Homo sapiens: one gene and its partners. The protein of the gene in region 2 purifies or fractionates together with the protein of the main gene of each other region. This does not show direct contact. Each region holds a gene or a part of one and is shown on either strand. Other genes may lie near its edges. The genes, in order: PPP2R3A, CDK17, C12orf43 and PPP2R5E.

Region 1 (7,396 bases), on a different chromosome or scaffold from region 2:
ATTTTACTGAGGCATGCTGATTTATTTATTTATTTATTTACCAGTTGTCTGGTGACTTGAATTTTTAAAACTGGAAAAAAAAAACCCAATGATAAACCTTTATTCATCCTTGAGTTCTAGTAAATTCACAATGCAAATCTGGGGTCCATCACTATTCATTATCAGTATTTCCTGGATATGGCGTGATTTCTGACCTTTCCTATTCAGGTTTTCTTTTATTTCAAAAAAGCTTTCCTATTGTCTTTTAATATACTTTACTATTTCATATATTCTTTTGTCTAAAACACATAAATAAGATCCCATTTGCTTTCCTTACCTATACCTAATTTTCTTTTGGATACTTTTTTTGTTTCTTTTCTATTACATTTTACTTGATCTTTCATAGTCTTCTTCCTCATCCCGTTTTTCCTAATTAAAGTCCAGAAGTACACATCCACAAAATGATTTTAATGCTTAATGGAACTGTACTGGGTACATGTAGTATAATTTTATTAATCTTCCCATTAGATACCTAGATTGCCTCCAAATTTTCACTATTATAAACATCCACACTTGCTGTGTGTGTGTGTGTCAGGGTCTAGCTAGCTCTGCAGGCCAGGCTGGAGTGCAATGGCATAATCTCAGCTCACTGCAGCCTCTGCCTCCCATACTCAAGTGATCCTCCCACCTCAGCCTCCTGAGTAGCTGGGACTACAGGCACACACCATCACACCTGGCTAACTTTTGTATTTTTTGTAGAGATGGGGTTTCGCCACATTGCCCAGGCTGGTCTCGAACTCCTGGGCTCAAGTGATCTGTTTGCCTCAGCCTCCCAAAGTGCTGGGATTACAGCCATGAGTGACTGCGCCTGGCCAATCCACACATATTCTTAACTGCAGCATTGTTGCTTCTTAAGATTGGTATGCTAACCCTAATTCCTAGTATGGAAGCTCAATGCCAAAAAAACCTTTAAATCATGCTTGTGAATCCATTTTCCTATATTCTGATGCAGTCAGGCTTAAGATACTGAGTGCACGATGAATGATTTTAAGGGTTTCCAGGTCACTGCCATAAAAATGAAATCCTAGTTTTGTGGCTAAGCAGGTTAAAGAAATCTCTCAGTGAAAGAAAGCTCTTTGCTGATGGCTTGTTCAGCACCCTCAAAAAAGATAATATTTAATGAATGGTAGAGGTATAAAATGGTACAATCTATATTGAGGACTATTTGACTTTATCTATGGGGCTGGATAGTTTCTGTTTATCCCTCTAGACCTGCTCTTCCTCTATCTCTATGCCTCAGGAGGCTGACCTGAATGGACCACATCAGAGACCACATTTGAGACTGTCTCAAAAAAAAAAAAAAAAAAAAAAAAGAATTCATGTATCTTTCTAAATATACATAGATAGGTGGAGAGAGAGGCTCTTTGGAAGAGTAAGCAAGAACATGATGACACTTGTTGCTTCTGGGGAGGAGAAGTGGGTAGTAGGAAACTTTTTACTATTTCTTTTGTTTCTTTGAATATTATATGAATAGTGCCTGTTCAAAAAGTACACTACATTAATGAGAAAGATTAATTGAGGCCTTTACAGAAGCTATGACTAAGGAAGAATTAGAAGAATTACAAAAGGAGTTACTAGAAGATGATGGAAAAAACCAGCAAATTATAAAGTTGCTGAAGTGATCCAAGGAGTCAAATTCTTGGATAATTAAATTTCTTAACATGGTCCCTTTATGGAATTATGCCCTGACTAGTAGAAATACATGTAGAAGTTACTTCCTGCACAAAACCATGTATAATAAAGATTTGTTCTAAACATGATCATCTTTATTATTATTGAAGGAGCTTTAGTTTTTTTTTTTTTTTTTTTTTTTTTTTTGGAGACGGAGTTTTGCTCTTGTTGCCCAAGCTGGAGTGCAATGGCATGATCTCGGCTCACTGCAACCTCTGCCTCCCGGGTAAAAGCCGATTCTCCTGCCTCAGCCTTCCAAGTAGCTGGGATTACAGGCATGCACCACCATACCCGGCTAATTTTTTTGTATTTTTAGTGGAGACAGGGTTTCTCCATGTTGGTCAGGCTGGTTTCAAACTCCCGACCTCTGGTTATCCACCCGCCTCGGCCTCCCAAAGTGCTGAGATTACAGGCGTGAGCCACCGTGCCCGGCCAGAGCTTTAGTTCTTTTAGCCTCCTCCTTTATGTACAGGGTTTATCAATATCACTAAAACAGTAGTTTGATTGTTCAGTGATCTCGGTTTCCAGTGAAAGATGAGACTCATTAAAGGAAATGGACATGAGAAGACTCTGTCAGGAAATGAGTGAAGATTGCTGGAAAAAATAATCATTTAACTAAAGTTGGCTAAATCACATTTTTATGCTATTCAAAAATGGAAAAAACAGAAAAGGATTTTGTAAGGGGGTTTTAATACTCTGGACATGCGCATTCCTGTTAAAAATTCTATAAGACATAGGGAAACTTACTCACCCTTCCTGGAATTGTGCTTGGGCAGATTCCTCTGCAACAAGCGTCTCATACTCCTCAGCGGCAAACCGGTCCCAGTCTGAGGGCTCAGGCCCATCGTTCTCAACATCCTGATTGGAAAGAAGACAGCCACGAGAAATAAAAAAAATCAAAGACAAAGAATTGGAGATAGATCATCACACAAATGTATACTGCTGAAAAAATCCTACCTGAAAAATGTTTCATTTCAACAGGTTTAAAAGAGGTGCTAAGGTAAAACTCCTAAGGTAATTTTCTACACCTCAAATGGCAAAATTATAACTGTTTAGCAGCCAGGTTTTTTAGGTATAGATTCCATTTTTTTCTTTTTTCTTTTTTTTTCTTTTTGAGATAGAATCTCACTCTGTCACCCAGGCTGGAGTATAGTGGCACGATCTCGGCTCACTGCAGCCTCTGCCTCCTGGGTTCAAGCAATTCTCCTGCCTCAGCCTCCCAAGTAGCTGGGACTACAGGCAAGTACCACCACGTCCAGCTAATTTTTGTATTTTGTAGAGACAGGGTTTCGCCATGTTGGCCAGGCTGGTCTCGAACTCCTGACCTCAGGTGATCTGCCCGCCTCAGCGTCCCAAAGTGCTGGGATTACAGGTGTGAGCCACCGTGGCTGGCTGATTCCAACTCTTTTTTTTAAAAGAGATAGGGTCTCACTCTGTTGCCTAGTCTGGAGTGCAGTGGTGCACCAATAGCTTACTGCTAACCTCAGAATCTGGGCTCAAGTGATTCTCCTGCCTCAGCCTACTGAGTAGCTGAGACTACAGGCATTCCACCTACTAAGTAGTTGAGAATGCAGGCATACCACCATGCCCTGCTAATTTTAAAATTTTTTTGTAGACACAGGGGCTCACTATGTTGCCCAGGCTGGTCTTGAACCCCTGGCCTCAAGTGATCCTCCCGTCTTAGCTTCCTAAGTAGCTGGGATTACAAGCACAAGCCATAGCACCTGGTAAGTCTACTCTTTAGCCTTGTAATCAGAGACATTTCTCTGGTCCCCTCTCCTCTGGCACTTTGCACAGCAGCCACCTGGAGTGACTTGTGGTTTGCCACAGGCCCGCCTGAAATGTACCTTCCCCAAGCCCCCATTCGCTGGCAAATTTTTGTTCTTTAAAAGCCAACTCAGATACCACGCTGTCTGTGATAGCTTCCTGGAAACAGCCCTTCTCTCCATATCACTTCCTTTTTCCTAATGTAGATACTTTGGTTGCCACCTTTTGTTCTTGTATCTCTGCCATCTCCATATATCCAGTATCTCTTCAACACAGTGCCCAGAATTTATTAAGCACTGACTAATAATGTTCTTTGTAGATCAGAACAAATATCAATAATTATACCATTTATTAAAAAAAGTAAAATTTAAAGGTAATTTTTTTAGAGTAAAAATGGTAACACAAAGAAAATAAGTGAAGAGGGAAAAGACCACACACTTTTGTGAATTTTCTTGAAATTTTATGTTTCAGATAAAATGTCTTTCCAAGCCGAACATGAGTTAGTATTGCCCTAGGGTCTAGAGTTAGTTATGCCAAGAATAATGTTAAGTTCCTAAACAATGACCACTATTAATTACTATATTTAACTCCTTTTAAGACCCCATCTCTATCCTTCTAACATTTATAAAATTGCAATGCATTATAGGCTTACAACTGGCAATGTTTGGGGTTTTGTTTTTGCTTAGAGAACTATAAAACAGGCTGGGCACAGCCAGCTCACGCCTGTAATCCCAGCACTTTGGGAGGCCTAGGTGGGCAGATCACCTAAGGTCGGGAGTTCGAGACCAGCCTGACCAATATGGAGAAACCTTGTCTGTACAAAAAATACAAAATTAGCTGGGTGTGGTGGTGCATGCCTGTAATCCCAGTTACTCAGGAGACTGAGGCAGGAGAATCACTTGAACCCGGGAGGCGGAGGTTGCGGTGAGCCGAGATCACACCATTGCACTCCAGCCTGGGCAACAAGAGCGAAACTCTGTCACACACACACACACACACACACACACAAAGAAAGAAACAAATATAAAATTATGGAGCATGTTAAATTCAATGAACCATAACAGACTTTAAGCCAGCGATAATGCAACTTGATATGCTGAGGTCAGCTGCAGAATATTTGTTTTTGGAAGGCGATAAATTCTTATTTATCTTATTTAGAAGGTGATCATATTCTTACTACTATTTAGGTCAAACAGTTATGGAACATGCAGAAGAAAAAAGAATGCAAAAGCTTCTTATAGTTTACTGTTACTCAACTGCAACAGTCTGTTCTTAACATAATTTTTACTTCTTAGAGGAATGGTAAGAACAAGGGGTGACATTGTTTTTATTTTTAACATGGATCGTATGTATAGGGTTTTCTGAGGGTCCACAGGTTTGTGTGTCTGGGGAAGGATATTCAGCTTTATTCAGATGTAGAATGCATTCAAAACTGATAGCCATGAACGGCAATCATTAACACGTGAAAAGGCGTTATATTATTTGAAGGTTTTCTATCATGGAGAACTCTAGTTTTTACCGTGATGGGGAAAGCTACTTACCATGGAATCCTGGAAATGAATGGTACAAGTGAATCAAGGCCAATATAGTTTCTAATACAGATGTGCCTATTGATATATTTTTAAAAGTTAGAAGGACAATTTTTTTTTCAAAACTACTCTTTTGTTTCCAGTGTGTGTATCAGTAGATGAGCTATAGAGTCCGCTCAGTGGAAAGTGCTTACACAGATGCAGGTTACTTAGACCTGACGATCGGCTGTGGAGAGACATGTGCTCTAGAGGTCCTTTATTGTCTCTTTTTAGTCTTTAATGAAATGTTACAAATGTTACCTCTTTACCGAAATTCCAGCATGCAGAGACCATGTTAATATGTAGCACACACAGCCCCTGACACTGCAGCCCTCAAATAAAAGTTAAAATTATACTGTTACCTTCTGGACCGCAAAGGGATCTCTCTGTTCATGGTCTAAGTATTTCTCCAGATTAAAGAAAGTGTCATAGAAGATGTGAGCCATTCTGCACCTCTTCAGATCTCTTAGAGTTATTTTGCCTACATAAAAATAAACAAATCTGGTAAATTTCATCAAGAGCTGTTTTGGCAAGAGGAAAAAACTTTCCCTGACATCTAAAAGTATAGGTATATGTTTATTATAAAAGTCCTATTTTCAGAATAAAAAAATTTAAATCTCATTTCTTTTTTCAAGGGTATCAATTTCTCAAACCCATTTCTTTTATTGAGGTAAAATTCACTAATAAAGTTCACCATTTAAACAATTTTAAAGTGCATAATTCAGTGGCTTTTAGTACACTCACAATGTTGTACAACCATTACCACTATCTAGTTCTGTAATAATATCATCACCCCAAAAGGAAACTCTGTGCCCATCAAGCAGTCCCTCCCATCTCTCCTCATGTGCTTTCTGTGTCTAAGGAAAAATCTTCTTTCATCCCCCAAACCCCGCTTTCATTTTCTTTTTAAAAAAGAGATACAGTCTCGCTGTGTTGCCTAGGCTGGAGTGCAGTGGCTACTCACAGGAACAATCATAATGCAATCCTCCCACCTCAGCATCCTTAGTAGCAGGGACTACAGGCATACACCACTGTGCCTGGTGTAAAATCCTATTTCTTAAATAGCAGACTTGCCATCAATTGCTACACTAAGCCTGGGCATGGTGACTCACGCCTGTAACCCCAGCACTTTGGGAGACCGAGGTGGGTGGATCACCTGAGGTCAGGAGTTCGAGACCAGCCTGGCCAACATGGTGAAACCCCATCTCTACTAAAAATACAAAAATTAGCTGGGCATGGTGGTGGTTGCCTGTAGTCCCAGCTACTTGGGAGGCTGAGGCAGGAGAATCACTTGAACCCAGGAGGCGGAGGTTGCAGTGAGCTGAGATCACACCATTGTACTCCAGCCTGGCAGACAAAGCGAGACTGCATCTCAAAAAAAAAAAAAAAAAAAAAAGTTGCTACACTAATAGTCAAGGAGAAACTTTAAACACTTCTGTCCTAGGAAGTCTTCTATCAAGACTCTGAAATGTTAAATAATTTAGGACAATCTAGGATTCTTTGCCCTCCTCTGATACATAGGTGAACAGTGCATCTGTCCCATTGCTTGGTCTCACCATCAACAGCTGGCTTCACTAGGTCAAGCATCTGGCACAGTAAATCATGGAATGGCAAGGGCTCAATTCCCATGGCTTCCATCCGTTCACACTGCTCCTCATAGAAGTACTCCAGCTCATACATGGAGAGTACACCGTCTCCATCCACATCCATGCAGCGGAACCAATACTCAATGCTAGATGATAAGGACAATCATTATCATGGGCCTGGTAAAGACCTTTTATTTATCCAGATTTAGTATGTTTCTTTTAAAGTAAAAGTTACATATTACATACACTTCAGGCTTAGATATAGTTTTACAAAGTTTGTTAGAGAAAATGGCGGACCCCTTCTTCCCTTTATTTTTCCACCCAGAATCAACCGTGTTCAACCCCATTTTGCTTTTTACCTTCCTATTTTCAGATAACACGTCTATATCGCTCCTTTCTTGTATTTATTTTCAGAACTATTATTAGAGGCTGGGCACGGTGGCTCATGCCTGTAATCCCAGCACTTTGGGAGACTGAGGTGGGCAGATCACTTCAGGTCAGGAGTTTGAGATCAGCCTGGCCAACATGGTGAAACCCTATCTCTACTAAAAATACAAAAAACTAGCTGCGCATGGTGGTGCATGCCTGTAATCTCAGCTACTTGGGCGGCTGAGGTGGGAGGATTGTTTGAACCTGGGAGGTGGAGGGTGCAGTGAGCCAAGACTGCGCTGCTGCACTCCAGCCTGGGTGAAAGAACGAGACTCCCGCCTCAAGATAAAAACCAACTAAACAACCAACCAACCAAACAAAAAGTAGATTTCACAT
Region 2 (7,396 bases):
GGTCTTGATATCCTGACCTCATAATCCGCCTGCCTCAGCCTCCCAAAGTGCTGGGATTACAAGTGTGAGACAGCGCGCCCGGCTGAAAAGAGGTATAATTTAAAACTCAATTTTTTTTTTTTTTTTGAGATGGAGTCTTGCTCTGTCGCCCAGGCTGGAGTGCAGTGTGGCGATGTCAGCTTACTGCAACCTCCACCTCCCAGGTTCGAGTGATTCTCCTCCCTTCAGGCACGTGCCAACACGCCCGGCTAATTTTTTTGTATTTTTTAGTAGAGACGGGTTTCATCATGTTGACCAGGGTGGTCTCGAACTCCTGAGCTCAGGCGATCCACCCACCTAGGCCTCCCAAAGTGCTGGGATTACAGGCATTTTAAAAAAGCCTTGGCCAGGTGCGGTGGCTCACGCCTTTAATCCCAGCACTTTGGGAGGCCTAGGTGGGTGGATCACCTGAGCTCAGGAGTTCAAGACCAGCCTGCCCAACATGGTGAAACATGGTCTCCACTAAAAATACAAAGATTAGCCAGACACAATGGCGTGCACCTGTAGTCCCAGCTGCTCAGGAGGGTGAGGCAGGAGAATCGCCTGAACCTGGGAGGTGGAGATTGCAGTTAGCAGAGATCGCACCACTGCACTCCAGCCTGGACGATGGGGTGAGACTCCATCTCAAAAAAAAAAAAAAAAAAAAGACAGAAAAGAAAAAGAAAAAAAATCCTTCAAGTTTAAAAGTAGACCATGGAACAGTTTTTATTTAATTACTGTAATTCCATTTAAAAACAAGGCTGGGTGTGGCGGCTCAAACCTGTAATCCCAACACTTTGGGTGGCCAAGGTGGGTGGATTACCTGAGCTCAGGAGTTAGAGACCAGCCTGGCCAACACTACTAAAAATACAAAAATTAGCCAGGCATGGTGGCACACGCCTATAATCCCAGCTACTCGGGAGGCTGAGACAGGAGAATTTACTGAACCCGGGAGGTGGAGGTTGTAGTGAGCTGAGATTGCACCACTGCACTCCAACCTAAACGACAGAGGGAGACTCCATCTCAAAAAAAAAAAGAAAAACAAAGCTTCTAGTCAACTGTATACATAAACTACCACAGCAGAATGAATAACATTAAATGCACTGTTTGATCCTTTGAGTACAATTCTGCACTGCAGTAAGCGCATTTAAGCCAATACTACACAGTTAAATAGCTAGATTTCATTAAGGACGATTTTGGGGCGGGGGGTTGTTTTGTTTTTGATTTTTTTTTTCTTTTTTTTTTTGAAACAGAGTCTCACTCTGTCACTCAGGTTGGAGTGCAGTGGTGTGATCTCAGCTCACTACAACTTTCACCTCCCGGGTTCAAGCAATTCTCATGCCTCAGCCTCCCAGGTAGCTGGAATTACAGGCCTGAGCCACCACGCCCGGCTAATTTTTTGTATTTTTAGTAGAGATGGGGTTTCGCCATGTTGCCCAGGCTGGTCTCGAACCCCTGACCTCAAGTGATCTGACCGCCTTGGCCTCCCAAAGTGCTGGGATTACAGGCGTGAGCCACCGCGGCAGGCCAGTTTTTTTCGGTTAAACCAAATTTTACTCCTGATACACTGACCAATATTTTTAGACCTTCAGAAATGAGTACTTTCTTTACATATTAACATTATAATTTTATATTTCCATTTTGTCTAAAAGACAACAATCTTTGAAGGCCACACCCCTTTTCTCTCCATTTTCACTAACAAGTTAGTACAGCTCACATGCAATTAAACAGTCTCAATAATGCCAAGTTACTGTCCCTCCAAGTTGGCCTACAAACTGCTCTAGATTGCTCTCACACAAATACCACCAAAACTGTATAGCTCCAATATTTGAAACCTTTTACACTTTTTATTATCTACTATATCAAAATGTATTCTTGATTGCTTCTAAGCCTACTCTGACCTTAATTTACCAACTCGGTGTTGTTCCTCCTAATTCCATCACTTTATTCAATTTAAGAGTATGATAATACGGGAAGAAATACAGAAATGAAAAAAAACACGGCCTCTCTGGAGCACAACGCCAGCCAAAAGAGGGAGAGACCTGAAAATAATTAATTACAACATAACATATTAAGTACTACAGTATACATAAATACTATATAGCAGAACCACCATAACTGTCAGAATGGAACAAAGATCACGTTGGAGAAAGAGACGTTTGGGCTTAAAAATGAGAATTTCTCTACAAGTGTCATAGCATTGTAATATCAACATACCAGTTTCTTCATCTTTGTATCCTAGCCCCTACCATAGTGTCTAGTACAGAGTAGGCAGGTACTTCAGACATGGATGGATGAATGGACGGCAGTACGGAAAAAAGGATAAAATAAGATACATATATAAACATAAAGAAAGAATATGGTTAGATTAAAATGGGACAAAACTGGAGCCAGTAAATCAGATAAGACATTCCAAAACCCTTACGTAAGAAAGTGACACAGGAAAAAATAAATTTAAAAGATATTTAGGAATTAAAATTAACAGGACTTGGTGTGACTAACTGGACTAAGGGGAAATGAGCATAACAGAAAAGCGTAAGAAAGAAGCTGCCAAAGTTTTTGGCTTACGTGACTAGGCTGACAGTGGTACCATTCACTGAAATTGGGAACAGAAATAGGGGATTCGAGTTCAGTTTAGGTAAGGGAGCACTAAGGCAATATCGAGTAGGAAGCTGGAATGCAACTCAGAAAAAGAGGTCTAGATTAGAAATAAAGAGGTGGAGATTATTGCATATGGGTGATGAGAACAAAGCCCTAAATATAGACCAGATTGCCAGGAACACATAAAACCTGGAAAGAAGGCTGTGGACAGAATACTCAGACAACCAACATTGCTGTTATCTTATATGTTACAATATTGCCACATTAAATTATATTGTTACAACACAGATAACGGCTAATACAATATTGAGGACGTAACAAATGCTTTAAAAATACCAACTGCAAACCTGAGTTAATTGAAAAATTAAATTTATTAACTCAAATTGAGACATAAAGGACCACTTCTTAAAACCAATTTAAGGCCAGGCACAGTGGCTCACACCTGTAATCCCAGCACTTTGGGAAGCTGAGGCGGGTGGATCACGAGGTCAGGAGTTCAACACCAGCCTGGCCAAGATAGTGAAACCTCATCTCTACTAAAAACTACAAAAATTAGCAGGGCATAGTGGCAGACACCTGTAATTCCACCTACTCGAGAGGCTGAGGCAGGGAGAATCGCTTGAACCCGGGAGGTGGAGGTTGCAGTGAGCCAAGATTGTGCCATTGTACTCCAGCCTGTGAGGCTCCGCCTCAAAAAAAAAAAAAAAAAAAAAAAAAGCTAATTTAATAGGTCAGACTCAAGGTGCTTAAGTCTAAGGAATCCAATTTTACTTCAGAATCAGTAAAAAATCTGGGCACAGTGGCTCACACCTGTAATTCCAGCACTTTGGGAGGCTGAGGCAGGCAGATTGCTTGAGCTCAGGAGTTCAAGAACAGCTTGGGCAATATGGCAAAACCCCATCTCTACTAAAAACACAAAACTTAGCCAAGACTGGTGGCGCTGAACCTGTAGTCCCAGCTATTTGGGAGGCTGAGGTGGGAGGATCACTGGAGCCCCAGAGATCAAGGCTACAAGAAGCAGTGATCACACCACTGCAATCAACCTGGGTGGCAGAGTGAGACCCTGTATCTTAACAAACACAAACACACACACACATACTCAATGAAAAGCTTCTTTTTCCACCAGAAATAACATTACAAGTCAATAATATAAAATACTAAAATCTAAGTTGTTATACTTCAAAAAATGTTTATTCTAAAATAATACTAAAAAACACATATTAACTAATTTAAAGAAGAGCAAGTCTAAATTTGGAGTGATAAGGGCTTCAATGCTGTTACTTGATAGTTTCTCACAAGTATAGACCAGGTGCAGTGGCTCACACCTGTAATCCCAGCACTTTGGGAGGCCAAGGCAGGCAGATCATGAGGTCAGGAGCTCAAGACCAGCCTGGCCAACATGGTGAAACCCTATCTCTACTAAAAATACAAAAATTAGCTGGACATGGTGGTGCACGCCTGTAATCCCAGCTACTCGGGAGGCTGAGGCAGGAGAATCACTTGAACCCGGGAGGCGGAGGTTGCAGTGAGCCAAGATCACGCCACTGCACTCCAGCCTGGGCAACAGAGTGAGACTCCATCTCAAAAAAAAAAAAAATTTCTCACAAGTATTTACCAACGTTGTTTACATTATTGAATATTAACACATACTAATAACAAACATTACCCATCAATTATAAGAATAGTAGATTAATATGACTTGAGAAGGCCAAAGTTAGTAACTGAACTAGAATACAATGAAAGAGAAATTATCTTTGGGTCCTTTTCCCTTGTTTACAAACATGTACACAAAATGTAGAGTATTCTTGAACATATTTACACTAACAAATGCATAAAAAGAAACAAAAATGTGTTATTAAAAGGTAGAGAAGCACGGGTACGGTGTCTCATACGTGTAATCCCAGCACTTTGGGAGACCGAGGTGCACAGATCACCTGAGGTCAGGAGTTCGAGACCAGCCTGGCCAACATGGTGAAAACCCATCTCTACTAAAAATACAAAATTTAGTTGGACGTGGAAGCTCACACCACCTGTGGTCCCAGCTACTCCGGAGGCTGAGGCACGAGAATAGCTTGAGATCACGCAACTGCAACACTGCACTCCAGCCTGGGCCAACTGAGGGAGAGACTCCGTCTCAAAAAAAAAAAAAGAAAAAAAAAAGGTAGACAAAAAATATTTATTATTTTATTTTTATTTATTATTTATTCAAAAAATCTATAATTTTTTTCCCCCGAGACAGAGTCTTGCTCTGTCGCCAGGCTAGAGTGCAATGGTGCGATCTTGGCTCACTGCAACCTCTGCCTCCCAAGTTCAAGCAATTCTCCTGCCTCAGCCTCCCGAGTAGCTGGGATTACAGGCATGCACCACCGTGCCCAGCTAATTTTTGTATTCTTAGTAGAGACCGGGTTTCACCATGTTGGCCAGGCCGGACTGGAACTCTTGACCTTGTGATCTGCCCGGCTCAGCCTCTCAAAGTGCTGGGATTACAGGCGTGAGCCACCATGCCTCGCCCATATAAATGTTTTAAATTTTTTTAGCATCTTGATTTTTAATTCATTTTGAGCAACATGTCCTACCTTACATATTTTATATACTGCAATCTTTTAATGTAGTAAAACCAGTTCAATGTACTTTAAATCGCATTTTGATGAGCTTTTCTAATATCTCACTCATTGTTTATAGAGTGCAGACAGTAACATTGACTTTTTAACATCTCATCCTCATGGAGACAGTGTAGAGTAGTGGTTTGAATGCCTAAACTGGAATGTCAATGTTACCACAGAGGTCGGTCCCTGGAAACAATGACTTAACCTAAGGTCTTTGTTTCTTCATTTGAAAACAGGCAGAATACCTATATGAAGCGCTTATTGTGAGGATTTCACAAAATAATACTTAGCATAGTGCCTAGTAGAGGAGGTAAATAATTAACGTTAATTTCTTTCACAAAGTTTATGTTATGGACTGAAGATCTGTGTACCCCCAAAATTCACATGTTGAAGTCCAAACCTCCCAGTGTGATGGCTATTAGAGGTGGACCTTTGGGAAGTAATTAGGTTTAGATTAGGTCCTAAGAGTGAGACCCTCTCATGACGGGATTTGTGCCCTTTTAAGTAGAAAAGAAAAAGACATCCTCACCTCTCCCTCCCCTCCCTCCCACTTCACCTGCAGACAGGGAGGAAAGGACTTAAGAGTGCCCAGGGAGAAGACAGCTGAGAGGGCAGGTGCTTAGCTGATTTCAGACTTCCAGCCCCGGACCTGTGAGAAAATACGTCTGTGTTTTAAGCCACCTCAATGTATGGTATTTTGTTATAGTACCCCAAGTAAAATAAGGTGATATCAAAAAATATTTTCAAAAGGAGACTTTGGAGAGCAAGATAATTTTCACCTCATCCCAATATGCCATAGATCTGTAAATCTACATCCTCAAACAGTATTCAGTATTGCAGGTTACTGCAGAACACGGTAACATTACTTATTAGATTTACTGGTAGATGTCTATTGATTTTCCATGTTGGCCAACAGGGAGAGGCAGACAGGCTGGGAACAATAAACTACACTGAGGTATATTCAATACACTTCTCTGGCCCTTGGCAATTCCTCTTGCCAGGTCAATATTTTGCAGATATCAAAAGTAACCACCAACTAACTATATTGGAAGCAAAATAATGACAAAGAATCCACTGATGACAATAAAAATTCTTAAAAGCCAGTCTAACTGGTCCTCTCCCCATCAGTTCAAAGAAATTGCCAACATTGTAGATTGAATGCTAGTGAACTACACTAGGTTCGCTATTACAGGCAGTTTTTTTAACTTCAAAAATGCTACATAAAGCACATTTTTAAATGCCATAAACCTATTGTTTATCTTCTGCATTTAAAATGCAAAATGCCATTATCACTTTATGAAATATACTTTAAATACCGATTTCCTGTTTAAAAGTTTAGGCAAAAATTATCCATTCAAAATTCAAAAGAACCTAAAACTATTCATCCTTCCCATGTATGAAAACTGAGACAATTTTTTAAACAGGTAAAATTCCCTAGAGAATATAATTTTTACAATATAGCAATAAAGTAATTATCCATCCTGAAAGTCTAAAACAAACAAAACAAACAAACAAACAAAAAATACAAAGAACATCCTGGAAATCTAAATGCCATGTAAAAGAATGCTAGCCCATGACGGTAAAATTTTCTAAAGACTAGGAAACATCAATAAAGATTCAAAATGTAATGTCTTATAAATATTCAGCATTAGTAGACAATAACAAAGAAAATCATAGGGTAAAAATTTTTGTGTTCACAGATAACTGTTATAATATTAAGGGACATCGTCATCTCCACTTTTGAATAGCTACCCCAGTTGCCATTACAGCTTCCATTGTTCAAAATAAAATAGTTGCATTGTTTTTCAGTGAAAGGAAAGAAGGAAAATATTGCTGAAAATAAGGAAAAAAACAAGCCTCAACAAAGCAACAAAATGATTTTATATGCCATCTAGTTTCGCCATAATTGTAGGACTGAACTGGTATCTGAAAACTAAATATATCAACAAACATATACGTTAAAATCTGCGCTTAGTCAACATAGCTATCCCTGTGCTACCGGGCAAATAAAATTTAAATTTTCTATTTTTTTTTTTATTAAAGCAATGACTTATTAGAGACTACTGGTATATGAAGCTGCAATACACATGGGGATCAATTCCTCCAATTTCATGTTTCCTTACTATGTATGTATCTCTTTTTGTTTTTTCATTCTGGTAACCAGAGTACAT
Region 3 (7,654 bases), about 25 Mb from region 2:
AGTTCAGTTGAGTCCTGGCTCTGCCACCAAGCTGTGTGATGCCGGGCAAGTCACTTTCTCTCCCTGAGCCTTTGTTTTTCTCATCTATAAAATGGGAATACGATTACCAACCTTCTGGAGTCAGTGTTGTGGACGCTGTTTCCATACCCATCCCCTTCCTGGATTTGTAAGCTACTTGAATACGTGGTCTGCCTCTTTTTACCTCTGTATCCCCAGATCCTGCCATAGTGTCTTGGTTTGAATTAATTGTCAGAAAAATAAGTCAAAGTAGATGCTACCCTAAAATTAAAGTGGTTTGAGTGACGAGTTCATCACTGGATTTAAGAGCTGTCTCTAGAGGTTACATAAATAAAATAGTGACCTATATTTCCACAGTCATGGACCAAAGGGTGGGAGTTTTGACCACAATAGACACTTGTCCATGGCAGAGTGGCACAGCAGCAATGAAGAGCATGGACTTGGGAGTCAGGTAGGCCTGGGTTTACGCCTGGTTCTGCCACTCACAAATTGGACAACCTTGGCCAAGTTATTTTACCATTATGAGAATCAGTTTTCTGTAAAATGGGGCTAATACACCCTCTTGTGGCATTGCTGGGAAGATGAAAACAGACAACAAATACAAAGTGTTTAGAACAGGGGCAAAAAGAAAATTCTCAACTCCTGGTGGCTATTACTAGACGCACTCAAGAATGTAATCTAGGCTGGGTGTGGTGGCTCATGCCTGTAATCTCAGCACTTTGGGAGGCCAAGGTGGGCGGATCACCTGAGGTCATAAGTTCGAGACCAGCCTGGCCAACACGGTGAAACCCTGTCTCTAATAAAAATATAAAAAAAAATTAGCTGGGCCTGGTGGTGGGCACCTGTAATCCCAGCTACTTAGGAGGCTGAGGCAGGAGAATTGCTTGAGCTTGGGAGGCGGAGGTTGCAGGGAGCCAAGATCGCGCCATTGCACTCCAGCCTTGGTAACAGAGCGAGACTGCGTCTCAAAAAGAAAAAAAGAGACCAGGCGCGGTGGCTCACACCTGTAATCCCAGCACTTTGGAAGGCCGAGGCAGGTGGATTGCCTGAGGTCTGGAGTTTGAGACCAGCCTGGCCAACACGGTGAAACCCTGTCTGTACTAAAAATACAAAAAATTAGCTGGGCGTGGTGGCAGGCGCCTGTAATCCCAGCTACTAGGGAGGCTGAGGCAGGAGAATCACTTGAACCCAGGAGGCAGAGGTTGCAGTGAGCTGAGATCGTGCCATTGCACTGCAGCCTGGGCAACAAGAGTGAAACTCCATCTCAAAAAAAAAAAATGCAAAAAAAAAAAAAAAACCCCAAAAAACAAACAAACAAACAAAAAAAACTAGAAGCCGAGCACAGTGGCTCACACCTGTAATCTCAGCACTTTGAAGGTTGAGAAGGGAGGATCACTTGAGCCCAGGAGTTCGAGACCAGCCTGGGCAACATGGCAAAACCCCATCTCTACAAAAAATACAAAAAGTAGCTGGGACTATACATCTGTAGTCTCAGCTACTTGGGAGGCTGAGGTGGGAGGATCATCTGAGTAGGGGGAGGTCGAGGTTGCAGTGAGCCATGATTGTGTCAGCCTCGGTAACAGACTGAGTCCTAGTTTTGAAAAAAAAAAGAGCGAGAATTAGGCAGGAGGAGGAAAGCAGTCCATGTGGAAAGACCAACCACATATTTGCCACCATGTATTGGGCCTTTAAGATGTGCCAAGCACTGTAGATTGCATTATCTCAGTTACTTCTCAACCTTATGGGGTGGGTACTATCACTACCCGCACTGTACAGATGAGGAAATTTAGGTACAGTGAGATTTAAGTACTTTGCTCAAGTTCCCACCGCTAATGAGATGGAAAGGCAGATCTGTAAATAGAACTTGCAGAGAAAACTGTGGTTATGGTACTAGGGGGTGAGAGGGGCAGACTATGGTCTGGAAGCTACCTACAGGAAGTGCAGTATGGCAGGAGGGAAGGAAGGGAGAGGAAGGCAATGGATCACCAAAGGGCTTGTAAGTCCTTTTAAACAAATCCAGCGGTTCTTAACCTTGCTTTGCCATAGCCTTCTCTAACAGCCTGGTGAAGCCCGGTTCTCTTCTCAGAGCAATGTTTTAAATGCATGAAATGCAACATACAGGATTACAAAGAAAACCAATGATACCGAAATTTAATTATCATGATAGTAAACAACCAAACTTGTGATGTATGTGCTTCTTACATCTTAGATATAGAGATGGGTCTAAAAATTAGAGTGGCACATTTTAAATCAGGGATGAGTGTAAATGACTTTTTTCCCCAATATCTTTTTATCAATAAAATGATATATTGATATCTGTATCTGCAAAGATTGTAATGAGATATGAAAATCTGTGACTTCTGTTGGGATAAAGTAACGGCATTGCCAGAACTACTGTGGCTTAGTGCTTGCAAGACGGAAAGAGATGCTAAAATTCAGTCAGAGATGAATAGAAAGCAAAGATGCAACATGTTTTCATTCCAAATTCAAGAACCCTTGGGTTCTATCCATGATTAGGCCCCTTGATGTTGCGGGGCTCTGTATTTATTCCCAGGGCACTAGGGAGTCACGGTCAGAGTGATGTGCTGGGCACTGCTCTTGGCAACAACCTCCAGGGTGGGAGAATGTGTTGGAGGTGGGGAAAGGCTGGGTGCGAGAATACCGGGAGGGGGCTGTTGCAGTTATCTCGAAGAGACGGCAGCCTTCCCAGTGTGGGGCAGTGAGGATAGACCCAAGGAGGCAGAATCAAAAGACATTTGGGTACCTCAGCTTCCCCGACTGGAATAATGAAATACCCTCCCTACTGCACCTGCCCATGCTTTCAATCTGCACTACACCCAGTCCCTGGAGGTCTCTCGGGGAAGGAAGCCGAGTCCCAGTGACTCTCTCCTCACCATCCATCCTCTCAGGCTCCAGGGGAAGATCCCACGCCCCTCAGCCAGTCTCCCCAAACATAGTACCCTACCGGCTCTTGGCTTCCCTGCCACGTGCGGGCGTTGCTCCAAGCCCCAAGCCGGCATTGCCGCCTCGCGGCACCGCTCCAGCTCCTCCGCATCGCTACTGCTGTTACTACTTTCCGAATCGCTCACTGTGCCACTGGGCGCCGCCATCTTGAACCACCGCAAAGGATTGTGGAGAACACCGCCGTTATCAAGCCTCCTTCATGACGTCACGTGAGAGGAGAGGCGCGAGGCATTGTGGGGATTGTAGTTCCAAGACTTGGACCGCCATTGGCCATGAACTGTACTGGGTTGGGGATACCAGGTGGGAATGGGGAGGTGGGCGGTTCTCAAAGGCAAGAGCTAGAAGGGCCTAAGAGATTAACTTCTCCAATCATTTCTTGATGACAGATCTCCAGAGGGGATGGGAATCTCCTAAGGAGTTAATGACAGACCCAGGATTAGTTCCCAGGTTTTGATTCCATGTCATTTATTCTAGTAATTTCCCAGTCCAGCTGGGCCTAAGAAACACCTTAGAGAGCTGGTTAAACTGCAGACTTTTGGGTCTCACAGAAAATACTAACAGAATCAGAATCTCTGATAGGTGGAATCCAGGAATCTGTATTTCCTTTAATAGCCTAGGGCCTTACTACTTAAGAGTGTAGTCCATGAGCCAGCAGCATTGGTAACACCTGGGAGCTCGTTAGAAATGCAGAATCCAGGCTGGGCACGGTGGCTCACGCCTGTAATCCCAACACTTTGGGGGGCTGAGGCAGGCAGATCACAAGGTCAGGAGTTCGAGACCAGCCTGGCCAACATAGTGAAACCCCATCTCTACTAAAAATACAAAAATTAGCTGGGCATGGTGGCACGCACCTGTAGTCCCAGCTACTCAGGAGGCTGAGGCAGGAAAATCACTTGAACCTGGGAGGTGGAGGTTGAGGTGAGCCAAGATCGTGCCACTGCACTCCAGCCTGGGCAACAGACTGAGACTCTGTCTCGAAAAAAAAAAAAGAGAAATGCAGAATCCTGTCCGGGCACGGTGGCTCACATCTGTAATCCCAACACTTTGTGAGGCCGAGGCGGGCAGATCATGAGGTCAGGAGTTCGAGACTAGCCTGACCAACATGGTGAAACCCCATCTCTACTAAAAATACAAAAATTAGCCAGGCAATACTGACTCCCAGGACCCATCCAAGACCAAAAAATTAGAATCTCTGTGGTTAAAATACCTCACAGTGAAGGATGAACAAAATCACTTTACTTTTGTGTGTGGAATGCTGTTTCATGTTTTATCTTTGAAGACAGGTATGTCAAAACTTTACTAAAATAAACTCTCTGGCCTTGAGCTTTTTCTATTTCAAAGAAGAGGAAGGTGACTGATATGGTCTGAATGTGTTCCTCCAAAATTCATATGTTAAAATTGACACCATAAAATAAATAACAGAGAGACTGACTCTCCAAAATAAAGCGTTTATTCCAGAATTGCAAGGAATTGCAATTTGAGATATGCATGCTATAGTGGACTATAGGCACATTAAAAGAGGTTGTGGCAACGAGAAAAGACAAAGTCCACATAAGCTTCTTTAAAACAAGTACCGTTGATCACAGGAGCCTGTTGCAGGAGTTGGCTTTAGCTTATTGTGGAGACACCCACTGTTAGGCAAATATTCTTATGCAAGTGGTTTATCTATAATACTGCGGATTTTAGGAACTTCTTGAGATAATTTTTGTGACAGGCATTTGTTAGGGTTTGACATAAGTGACTCCATTTTGATACTGATAATTTCCAAAAAGTCCTTACTCCCAAGGTGATGGTATTAGGAGGTGGGACCTCTGGGAAGTAATTAGTGAAAGGGTCTTGTGTTGGTTCGAACCCCAAGAGCGTGGCCAACAGACAACATGAGGCAGTGTGTGTGCAGGTGGGCTGAGGCTTAAAATGGCGTCAGCACCAAATGAGGACGGGGCAGGGGTTTTGTAGTCTCCTGTAAACAGGAAGTTTCTCAGTCTGTTGTAACCGCTACATTGTACCCGGATGACGTCTCTCTCGGTCTTCAGGGGGTAGGTGTCTTCTGGCCCGCTCTCTTCCCGCTTCTGCTATCTTGCTGACACATGCTGCTGGCGCGAGTGGCCTTGCGCCTTGGGACCGGGCCCAAGGAGGGAGGGGAGGGAGGGGTCATTCATTCTCTTAAGCTTTCAGGCCCCACGGAGAATCTTTCAATTACATAATGGGTCCTGAGCCCTCATGAACTGGATCAATGCCTTCATAAAAGAGACCCCAGAGGCCAGGCATGGTGGCTCACAACTGTAATCCCAGCACTGTGGGAGGCCAAGACAGGTGGATCACAAGGTCAGGAGTTCGAGACTAGCCTGGCCAAGATGGTGAAACCCCGTCTCTACTAAAAATAAAAAAAAAATTAGCTGGGCACAGTGGTAGGTGCCTGTAGTCCCAGCTACTCGGGAGGCTGAGGCAGGAGAATCGCTTGAACCTCGGAGGCAGAGGTTGCAGGGAGCTGAGATCATGCCAATGCACTCTAGCCTGGGTGACAGAGCGAGACTCCATCTCAAAAAAAAAAAAAAAAAAAAAAAGAAGCGATCCTAGAGACACCTTTGCCTCTTCTACCATGTGAAGACTTAGTGAGAAGCTGCCATCTGTGAATCAGGAAGAGGTCCTCACCAGACACCAAATCTGCCAGTGTCTTGACTTGGACTTCCCAGCCTCCAGAGCTGTAAGAAATAAATGGTTATTGTTCATGAGCCATCCAGTGTATGGTATTTTGTTTTAGCAGCCCAGATGGACTAAGACATTGCATTTTTCATTCTTTTTTTTATTTTAAACAAGAATTTTCCCACCACCTACAATGTGGGCTGTGCTGGGCATTATGAAGGACACAAAGATGGGGACTGGAACAGCCTGTCTACCTCCTGGAAAGGAGGCACTTTTTCTGTCCCTGAAGGCAAACAGAGGTGGGAGATACACAGATTATGATTGCTAAATTGACCAGAGGCTGTTGATAACCAATTGCAGTGTGCATTTTCTATGCTATGGTAGGAGAGTAGCCCACCAGAAAACTAGGCAAAACAGGGGGGCAAAAGGAAACTTTTTATTGCTTGGAGTAAACCTGATCACATGACGTCCTTTGATAATAAAGATGCTATTACTTTCCTACAGTTTCCTGACTATTATGTACTGTTTGTGTATGGGTTTTAGGAGTTGAGGTGATTTTTTTTTACACTGCATCATCCTCAATCTCCCATTCTTTGTCTCTTTTTGCCTCAGTTTCCCCAGTCCTCATTTCTTAGAGTTGAGAAGCTCAAATGATCAAGCAATAACCATTAGGACAGCATTAGGCCCTGTGGAAATAAACAGCCCCCAAATGAGAACTAACAAAGGCGATTTATTCCCAACTTGCTATAGCAAAGGAACCAGCCACCCATCTCTCGCTTTTGACAGAGATTTAAAGACAGGCAGGAAAATGGGAAGGCTTCAGGGATGCCGTGATTGAGGCTGTTGGTATGGGGAAGCTGGAAGTGCACTCACCAGAAGTGGGGCTAACCATGTGATTGGTCTGGGGAGCTTATTTGGGTTTCTTGGGTTGGTCATAAATAGGAAGCAGGATGGGAGTAGGGTGGGGAGTTAGAGATGCTGCCAGTTATCGCCCAAGTCCTGATGGTTTGGGGTTGATTGCTGCAGAAGGCTGTGGGTCCGAATTCTGTTGCTGTGCGTCATGTGACCACACTATTTATTTGTATATTTAGTCCTCACACCCCTCCTCATCCTCCCCCTGGCAGGGCTGGGATAATCCTTTTTTTAAACGGATTTACTTATTTTTATGTTTTAGTTTTTAGACACAGGGTCTTGCTCTGTGGCCTGGGCAGGAGTGTAGCGGTGTGATCACAGCTCACTGCAGCTTCAGCCTCCTGGGCTCAAGTGATTCTTCTGCCTCAGCTTCTTGAGTGCCTGAGACTACAAATGTGCACAACCACACCCAGTGAATTATTTTTTTATTTTGTAGAGACGGGGTCTCCCTGTGATACCCAGGCTGGTCTTGAACTCCTCGGCTCAAGCGCTCCTCCCACCTCGGCCTCCCAAAGTTCTGGGATTACAGGTGTGAGCTACCACGTCTGGCCTGGGATAACTCATTGTAAAACTGGTGAAGACCTGGGACCTTCCCAGTAGACAATGGGACAGAGTGATTGACAGGATGAGTTCTGGAGTACATGGCAGAAATGTACAGAGAAGTCTCCCAGAGAAAACTAACTGGCTGGAAACAGAGCCTCTCCTTTCTTCTTCGAGAGGATGAGAGTGTCACTGTCTTGGATGCCATAGATCCCCAGACCCAACCAGTCCTGCAGGACTTGGCCTTGGAATTCCAGCTGCTGCTGCTTTTTAGGAAGCCCCTGCTGGTCTTCAATCTGCTGCTTCAGACCCAGGATGAAGCTGTTGGGGTTGATGGCATAGGCGTAGCTCCCACCATCAGGATTCTTCACGAAGACCTGGATCTCGGAGGGGATGGTCTCCAGCAGATAGATGTGAGTGTGGGAGAAGATCCCATATTTGGCTAAGGAGCACCTGCTGCTGAGAAGCTGCCTCTCACTGCCAGGAACCTGGAAGGACAGACGCTGCAGGCCAGAGTAGCCCCTGGTCCTCCGGATTTTCTCTTTAACCTTCCTTATGGGCTCATAAGGGTTCACGA
Region 4 (7,396 bases), on a different chromosome or scaffold from region 2:
TTAAGAGACTATTCTTATTCTAATAGGTTTTAGCACATTCACTCGTTATAAAAATCTGGTATTATATTGCATGTGCCTACTTTACTATACACAAAGCAGATATAGACGAAAAAGGCAATCATTAAAAAGGCACGAAAACGGCCGGGCACGGTGGCTCACGCCTGTAATCCCAGCACTTTGGGAAGCCGAGGCAGGCAGATCACCTGAGGTCAGGAGTTCATGACCAGCCTGACCAACATGGAGAAACCCCATCTCTACTAAAAATACAAAATTAGCCGGGCATGGAGGCGCATGCCTGTAATCCCAGCTACTTGGGAGGCTGAGGCAGGAAAATGGCTTGAACCCGGAAGGCAGAGGCTGTGGTGAGCCGAGATCGCACCATTACACTCCAGCCTGGGCAACAAGAGCTAAACTCCGTCTAGTCATCATAGTTGTAAGAATATCTAAAAGTGAATGTACAAACTATCTGCAAAATGCCTCGGAAATGTATAATGAATTGTGAGACAAGAAATAACAATGGCGGCCGGGCGCGGTGGCTCATGCCAAGAATCCCAGCACTTTGGGAGGCCTAGGCAGGCGGACGCACCTGTGGTCAGGAGTTCGAGACCAGCCTGGCCAACATGGAGAAACCCCGTCTCTACTAAAAATATAAAAATCAGCCGGATGTGGTGGCAGACACCTGTAATCCCAGCTACTCTCCGCAGGCTGAGGCAGGAGAATCACTTGAACCTGGGAGGCAGAGGTTGCAGTGAGCCGAGATTGCGCCACTGCACTCCAGCCTGGGTGACAGAGCGAGACTCTGTCTCAGAAAAACAAACAAACAAAAGAAATAACAATGCTACTTTCACTATAATTCCATCTTCAAAGAGGCAGTATTCTTCAGAAAACGTTCACCCAAATCTAAACTTACAGAATTGCTTAAAGTCAACGCAAGGAAATGAGGCACAGGAGGCTGGGGTGAGGAGAGAACATAAATCACCCAGCCAGGTGCTACTACCACTGATTATTATTAACATAAATTTGTGTGTGTGTTTGTGTGTTTGCCTAACTGTTTAGTTTGACTGTCTTACTCAACAACTTACCTAGATAACAGTCAAGGCTTGCTTCATGTCCTGCTGTGTAAGTGTAAGGAAAGTATCCAAGTCTTGACTTTCTTTTTTTTTTTAAGACAGAGTTTATAGTGGCACAATATGAGCTCACTGCAACCTCCACCTCCCGGGGTCAAGTGATTCTCCTGCCTCAGCCTCCTGAGTAGCTGGGATTATAGATGCACACCACTACATCCACGAATTTTTGGATTTTTAGCAGAGATGGGGTTTTACCCTGTTGGCCAGGCTGGTCTCAAACTCTTGACCTCAAATGACCCGCCCCCTGTCGGCCTCCCCCAAGATTTTACTTTCTTATCAAGTAAGTAAGGCACTAAACCTCTACTAGGTTTTCCCTATCAGTGAATGAGTAAGAATCTTTTAGACTCAAAGAAAAAAATGTTTTTATTTTGAGACAAAGGTCTCACTCTGTCAGCCACACTGGACACAGTGGAACAATCACAGCTCACTGCAGCCTCAGCCTCCTGGGCTCGGGCAATCCTTCTGCCTCAGCCTCCCAAGTAGCTGGGACCACAGGTGTACACCACCACCCTGGCTAATTTTTTAAATTATTTGTACAGATGAGGTCTCACTATGTTGCGTAGGCTGGTCTCAAACTCTTGGGCTTAAGCGAGCCTCCCAACTCTGTCTCCCTATGTGCTGGGATTATAGGTGTGAGCCACCATACCCAGCCTCAAAAATGTTAAGGCTCTCCAAGAACACTTTCACAAAAGCATATAAAGATGGAGAAAATGTAAATGTCTATCTTTGCAAAGTTCATCCTATAATTTCCTAACACACAGATACGGAAAAACCAGGTAGATTTATACAGAATTACAGGTGGTGTTGCTTTCTACAGGAAATAACATCAGTGATACAGATTTCAAAACCCCACCTATTAGACATAGGGCAAAATAGGCTGGGCGCAGTGACTGACGCCTGTAATCCCAGCACTTTGGGAGGCCAAGGCAGGTGGATCACCTGAGGTCAGGAGTTTGAGACCAGCCTGGCTGGTCTCAACACGTCTCTACTAAAAATACAAAAAAATTAGCTTGGTGTGGTGGTGGGCACCTGCAATCCCAGCTACTCAGGAGCCTGAGGCAAGAGAATCACTTGAACCAAGAGGCAGAGGTTGCAGTGAGCTGAGATCGCACCACTGTACTCCAGCCTGGGCAACAAGAGCAAAACTCCATCTCAAAAAAAAAAGAAATAGGGCAAAACAAAAACTTTCCCTTCACATTATGTTGCAGTTTTGCAAGTGAACAGACTTTAAAACGCTAAGAATTAATGCAGTATTATTTATAAATCAAAGATTATGATGCATATAATAAACATTCTGATAATGCATGCACAAAACGAGTGGTTATTAATGCATATCTGAGCATTCAAAAATGACATATTAAAAGATGAGTTACATAATCACTGTTTGTATAATTATCGTATTCAAACTCCCCTGAAATTAAAGACCTTAAGGACACCTCTTTGACTTCATTATTTAAAACAACTCACAAAATTCAACCATATTTTATATTGTACTCCAAATAAAATTAACCCAATTTAGTCAAAGCAATACTATAGAAAATTAAATCAATAACTACCCTTAGCATGCATATAGTGTTTATCCTGGTTTCTCTTAAGGCAATGGCCAAAAAAAATAAAATCCTAGAAAAGAAATTCCTCCTACATTTTCTTTATATTCCATAAATTACTTCCTAGAAAATCAAGAGCAAATACACATTACTGAAGTCTATTTCTGATTATACTTCCTTATGTTATTCTACAGACAGAGATGGATTTCTAATTTATAGAATACTTTCCAGAGTATTTACCCAGAATGTGCTTACTACATAACAATCACTGTTAGTCACTCTGGAATTAGGTTTGTGAGTATATAGTCCTGTTACTCTCCAATTCTCTCATACTGGCAAAATATACAAGTTCAAAAAATCACATTCTTGGAAAGCAGAGTTCTTGGAAAACTGGCAACACTAGCAGACTTCACTTTTAAAAGTGAGAAAAAGGATACAGAAATGGCCAAAAAGCACAGGAAAAGATGCTCAACATCACTAATCATTAGGGCAATGCAAATAAAAATCACACTGAAATACCACTTCATACCTATTATAATGACTACTATCAAAAAATTAAAAAGCAGAAAATGAGTGATGGTGAGGATATAGAAAACTGGAACCCTCATGCATTGCTAATGGGAATGAAAAATGGTCCAGTTGCTGTGGCAATATGTATGGCAATTCCTGAAAAATTCAACATATGATCCAGCAATTACACGTCTGGGTACATACCCAAAAGAAATGAAAGCCAGAACTTAAACAGGTATCTGTACATCATGGTCACAGCAGCATTATTCACAATAGCCTGAAGGTGGAAGCAACCCAAGTGTCCACCAATGAATTAATGGATTAAAAAGTATATGGTATGTATATACACTGAAATTATTCAGCCTTAAAAAAGAATGAAATTCTGACACCTGCTACAACAGAGATGAACACTGAAGACACTTGACTAAGTGAAATAAGCCAGTCACAAAAAGACAAATATTGCATGGCATCACTTATAGGAGGTACCTAGAGTAGTCAAATTCATAGAAACAAAAAACAGAATGGCGGTTGCCAAGGGCTGGTGGGGGAAACAGGGAGTCAGTGTTTAACAGGTACAGAGCTTCAGTTGGGGAAGATGAAAAGGTTCTGGAGATGGATGGTAGGGACAGTTGCATGACAATGTCAAGGCACTTAATGCACATTTAAACATGGTTAAGATGGTAAATTTCATGTTATGTATATTTTACCATAATTTTTTAAAATGAGAAAAAAGACATGAAAGCATTAAAGAAAAAATACATTAAAGCATGTGTCCAAATTCTTCTCATGCATGCTTCTTTCACTACCCACAAAACCAATACCCTGACTATGAGTGGTCAGTGAAGTCCTAATTTAATTGTTTACCATAAGATCCAAGAAATTAGTGTAAGTTTTTAAATTCCTTCTAATTCTAAAAAAAAAAATTTAACTGGCTTCCTCAGAATGAAGTCCTTTACAGATACAGAAGTTAACACCCATTACATATCTACTTCAGATTAAATAGATTACTAAAAACCAGTGTCTCCCAACTTTGTATTTCAAGCATAGTTCAATCTACAGTGTTTCCTACATTTTCTTTCCAAAGCCTCATAATGACTATTTTCATTTTTACCAGCAAAATCTCTAGTCAAAATTTTCTCCCCCAAAGCTCACAGGAGCTCATCTTTACTGACTGGTAGATATATCATCTTTACAGTAATCAGTATTCAGTTTCCAAAAATTTTGTATAAACATTGGAATCTTATTTATGAATCTCTCTCTCTTTTTTAAAAAAAGTATTCATATGGAAAAAATAGAAGCTTGAAATATCCTAAGCTAAATTTTGAGGATCTTTTCCGGTTACATTCCAGTTTTTCTTATAATACCTTCTGATTTCACAAACTGTTACAGAAATAAGTCTGCAATAATGAACTAGCAAACCAGGTTGCCTGGTTTCCTCCAAGCCACACTAAAGCTCATTGTGTTGTTCATATCCCCTTTCTCCCATTCTTCAGTATTCAGCACATAAACATCCACCTCAAAGGTAAATTCTGATAGTTTCCACACTATAAAAGCTATGTTCTGATATTTTTCAAACAACACCTGTTCATAAACATGAAGCAAACATGATGAAAATTAAAAGGGACAAAAAGTAACCACATACCCAAACAAAAGTTGAAATGCCTAATTTAGAAAAAATTCTTCATATTAAAAACGTGTTGGGCCGGGCATGGTGGCTCACGCCTAAATCCTGGCATGGGAACACCATGGCAATTCGAGACCAGCCTGTGCAACATGGCAAAACTCCATCTCTACAAAAAAATGGAAAAATTAGCTGGGCGTGATGGCATGCTTCTGTAGTCCCAGCTACTCGGGAAGTTGATCCCGGCTACTCGGGAAAGGGAGGATCACTTGAGCCTAGGAAATAGAGGCCACAGTGAGCCCCAACCTGCACTTTCTTTTTTTTTTTTCCCCCGAGACAGAGTCTTGCTCTGTCACCCAGGCTAGAATGCAATGGCACGATCTGGGCTCACTTCAACCTCTGCCTCCCGGTTCAAGCAATTCTCCTGCCTCGGCTTCCCGAGTAGCTGGGATTACAGGTGCCACCACCGCGCCTAATTTTTGTATTTTTAGAAGAGACAGGGTTTCACCATGTTGGCCAGGCTGGTCTCAAACTCCTGACCTCGTGATCTGCCTGCCTCGGGCTCCCAAAGTGCTGGGATTACAGGCGTGAGCCACCACGCCCGGCCTCAACCTGCACTTTCACTCTGTCCCCACTGAACTCTAGCCAGAGTGACAGCATGAGATTGTCTCAAAAGAAAATTTAAAAAACCAAAAAACTTGTTTTTAACAAATTTCAGGCCAGGCACGGTGGCTCACACCTGTAATCCCAGCACTTTGGGAGGTCAAGGTGGGCAGATCACTTGGGGTCAGGAGTTCAAGACCAGCCTGACCAACATGGTGAAACCCTGTCTCTATTAAAAATACAAAAATTAGCTGGGCATGGTGGCGGGCACCTGTGCTCCCAGCTACTCGGGAAGCTGAGGCAGGAAAATCACTTGAACCCAGGAGGTGGAGGTTGCTGTGAACCAGCCTGAGCAACAGAGGGAGACTCTATCTCAAAAGATAAAAATTAAAATTAAAAAATTAACAAATTTCAAAGAAAAGATCATACTAAACAAGTATGATCATCATACTTGTACATAGAAAGGTATATCTTTTCTACTTGTACTATGTGAAAACAAGAGTGCATGTAAACAACTATAAATGGACCATTTTTTTCTTGATTTTTAAAAACGAATTCTTCCAAATACCATTTTCTATATGTAAATTAATGAATGGTACCATCTCCTCTACTAGGGTCTACTTCCTAAGACCATAATCTGTAGTTGTCATTGTATATAATGTATCCCTAAACGTCAACAGAAGAAAAAATGAAAAACACAAACCCAGACATCTTAAAGTTTCTCTAGTACTTAGTTTACCTACTCATCAATGTGAGATATTCTCCTGATAATGTTTCTTTTAACTTGCCCAAAGACAGACTAAATTGAGCCTTTAAAAAGGAGAGTGGGTATATTTGGTCACACATTAGTAACTTCAATGTATGTGAAGTATCCCATCCCTTCAATTTGCAACACATATAAAACTCTACAAAAAGGAAATTATATATAGATGTAGAAAGATCAATTGAAAAAGAATGCATCACCTGGTCATGAGCCTTACCTTTTAGCAGCGGCAGAGGTGTTAACTCAATAGGCTTGCCTTGAGACCTAAACTGTGAGGAACTTTGCGACCTCTTCTGTCTGGCTTTTCTGACGGACTTCCGAGAAAATCCGTCTACTTTATCCACTGATGGAGGAGTAGTTGGTGCTGAGGACATATCCCTACTGAAGAGAAAGAAGTATCATAAACCCATACATTCCCAAGGTGGAAGCATACATGTGAGTTATACAAATTCTAAAATTCCCATATACAATATTCATGAAAATGGGAATATGTGCTAAAGAAAATAAAATCAGTTAAGAAAAGTCTTATCTTGGCCAGGTGCAATGGCTCACGCCTGTAATCCCAGCACTTTGGGAGGCTGAGATGGGTGGATCACTTGAGGTCAGGAGTTCAAGACCAACCTGGACAACATGGTGAAATTCAGTCTCTACAAAATTACAAAAATTAGCCGGGCATGATGGCAGGTGCTTGTAATCTCAGCTACCCGGGAGGCTGAGGTGAAAGAATCGCTTGAACCTGGGAGGTGGAGGTTGCAGTGGGCCAGGATCCCGCCATTGCACTCCATCCAGCCTGAGTGACAGAGTGAGATTCCGTCCTTTAAAAAAAAAAAAAAAAAGGGCTGGGCCCGGTGGCTCACACCTGTAATCCCAGCACTTTGGGAGGCCGAGGTGGGTGGATCACTTGAGGTCAGGAGTTCGAGACTAGCCTGGCCAACATGGTGAAACCCTGTGTCTACTAAAAATACAAAAATTAGCCAGGCGCAGTGGCATGCACCTGTAATCTCAGCTACTCAAGAGGCTGAGAAGGGAGAACCGCTTGAACCTGGGAGGCGGAGGTTGCGGTGAGCCAAGATGGCACCACTGCACTCCAGCCTGGGCAACAGAGCAAGAGTCCATCTCAAAAAAAAAAAAAAAAAAAGCCAGGCACAGTGGCACACACCCGTAATCCCAAGGCGGGCAGATAACTTCAGGTTGGGAGTTCGAGACCAGCCTGACCAACATGGAG

The links.
Region 1: the proteins of CDK17 (region 2) and PPP2R3A purify together in Homo sapiens (affinity purification with mass spectrometry; 3 studies listed by BioGRID and IntAct, with this or other methods). This does not show direct contact.
Region 3: the proteins of CDK17 (region 2) and C12orf43 purify together in Homo sapiens (affinity purification with mass spectrometry; 2 studies listed by BioGRID and IntAct, with this or other methods). This does not show direct contact.
Region 4: the proteins of CDK17 (region 2) and PPP2R5E purify together in Homo sapiens (affinity purification with mass spectrometry; 3 studies listed by BioGRID and IntAct, with this or other methods). This does not show direct contact.

Annotation. Positions count from the first base shown.
Region 1 is NC_000003.12:136,101,388-136,108,783, reverse strand, and holds part of PPP2R3A (serine/threonine-protein phosphatase 2A regulatory subunit B'' subunit alpha), read right to left. Parts: intron 6,778-7,396; coding exon 6,602-6,777; intron 5,527-6,601; coding exon 5,408-5,526; intron 2,569-5,407; coding exon 2,462-2,568; intron 1-2,461. UniProt on the Homo sapiens protein: The B regulatory subunit might modulate substrate selectivity and catalytic activity, and might also direct the localization of the catalytic enzyme to a particular subcellular compartment.
Region 2 is NC_000012.12:96,390,044-96,397,439, forward strand, and holds part of CDK17 (cyclin-dependent kinase 17), read right to left. Parts: intron 1-7,396. UniProt on the Homo sapiens protein: May play a role in terminally differentiated neurons. Has a Ser/Thr-phosphorylating activity for histone H1.
Region 3 is NC_000012.12:121,013,347-121,021,000, forward strand, and holds the start of C12orf43 (protein CUSTOS), read right to left. Parts: upstream 3,142-7,654; 5' UTR 3,129-3,141; coding exon 2,984-3,128; exon of another isoform or gene 2,920-2,983; coding exon of another isoform or gene 2,913-2,919; intron 1-2,912. Other genes in the region: OASL (2'-5'-oligoadenylate synthase-like protein), read right to left, coding at 7,215-7,654. UniProt on the Homo sapiens protein: Plays a role in the regulation of Wnt signaling pathway during early development.
Region 4 is NC_000014.9:63,533,141-63,540,536, forward strand, and holds part of PPP2R5E (serine/threonine-protein phosphatase 2A 56 kDa regulatory subunit epsilon isoform), read right to left. Parts: intron 6,554-7,396; exon of another isoform or gene 6,553-6,553; 5' UTR 6,546-6,552; coding exon 6,389-6,545; intron 1-6,388. UniProt on the Homo sapiens protein: The B regulatory subunit might modulate substrate selectivity and catalytic activity, and might also direct the localization of the catalytic enzyme to a particular subcellular compartment.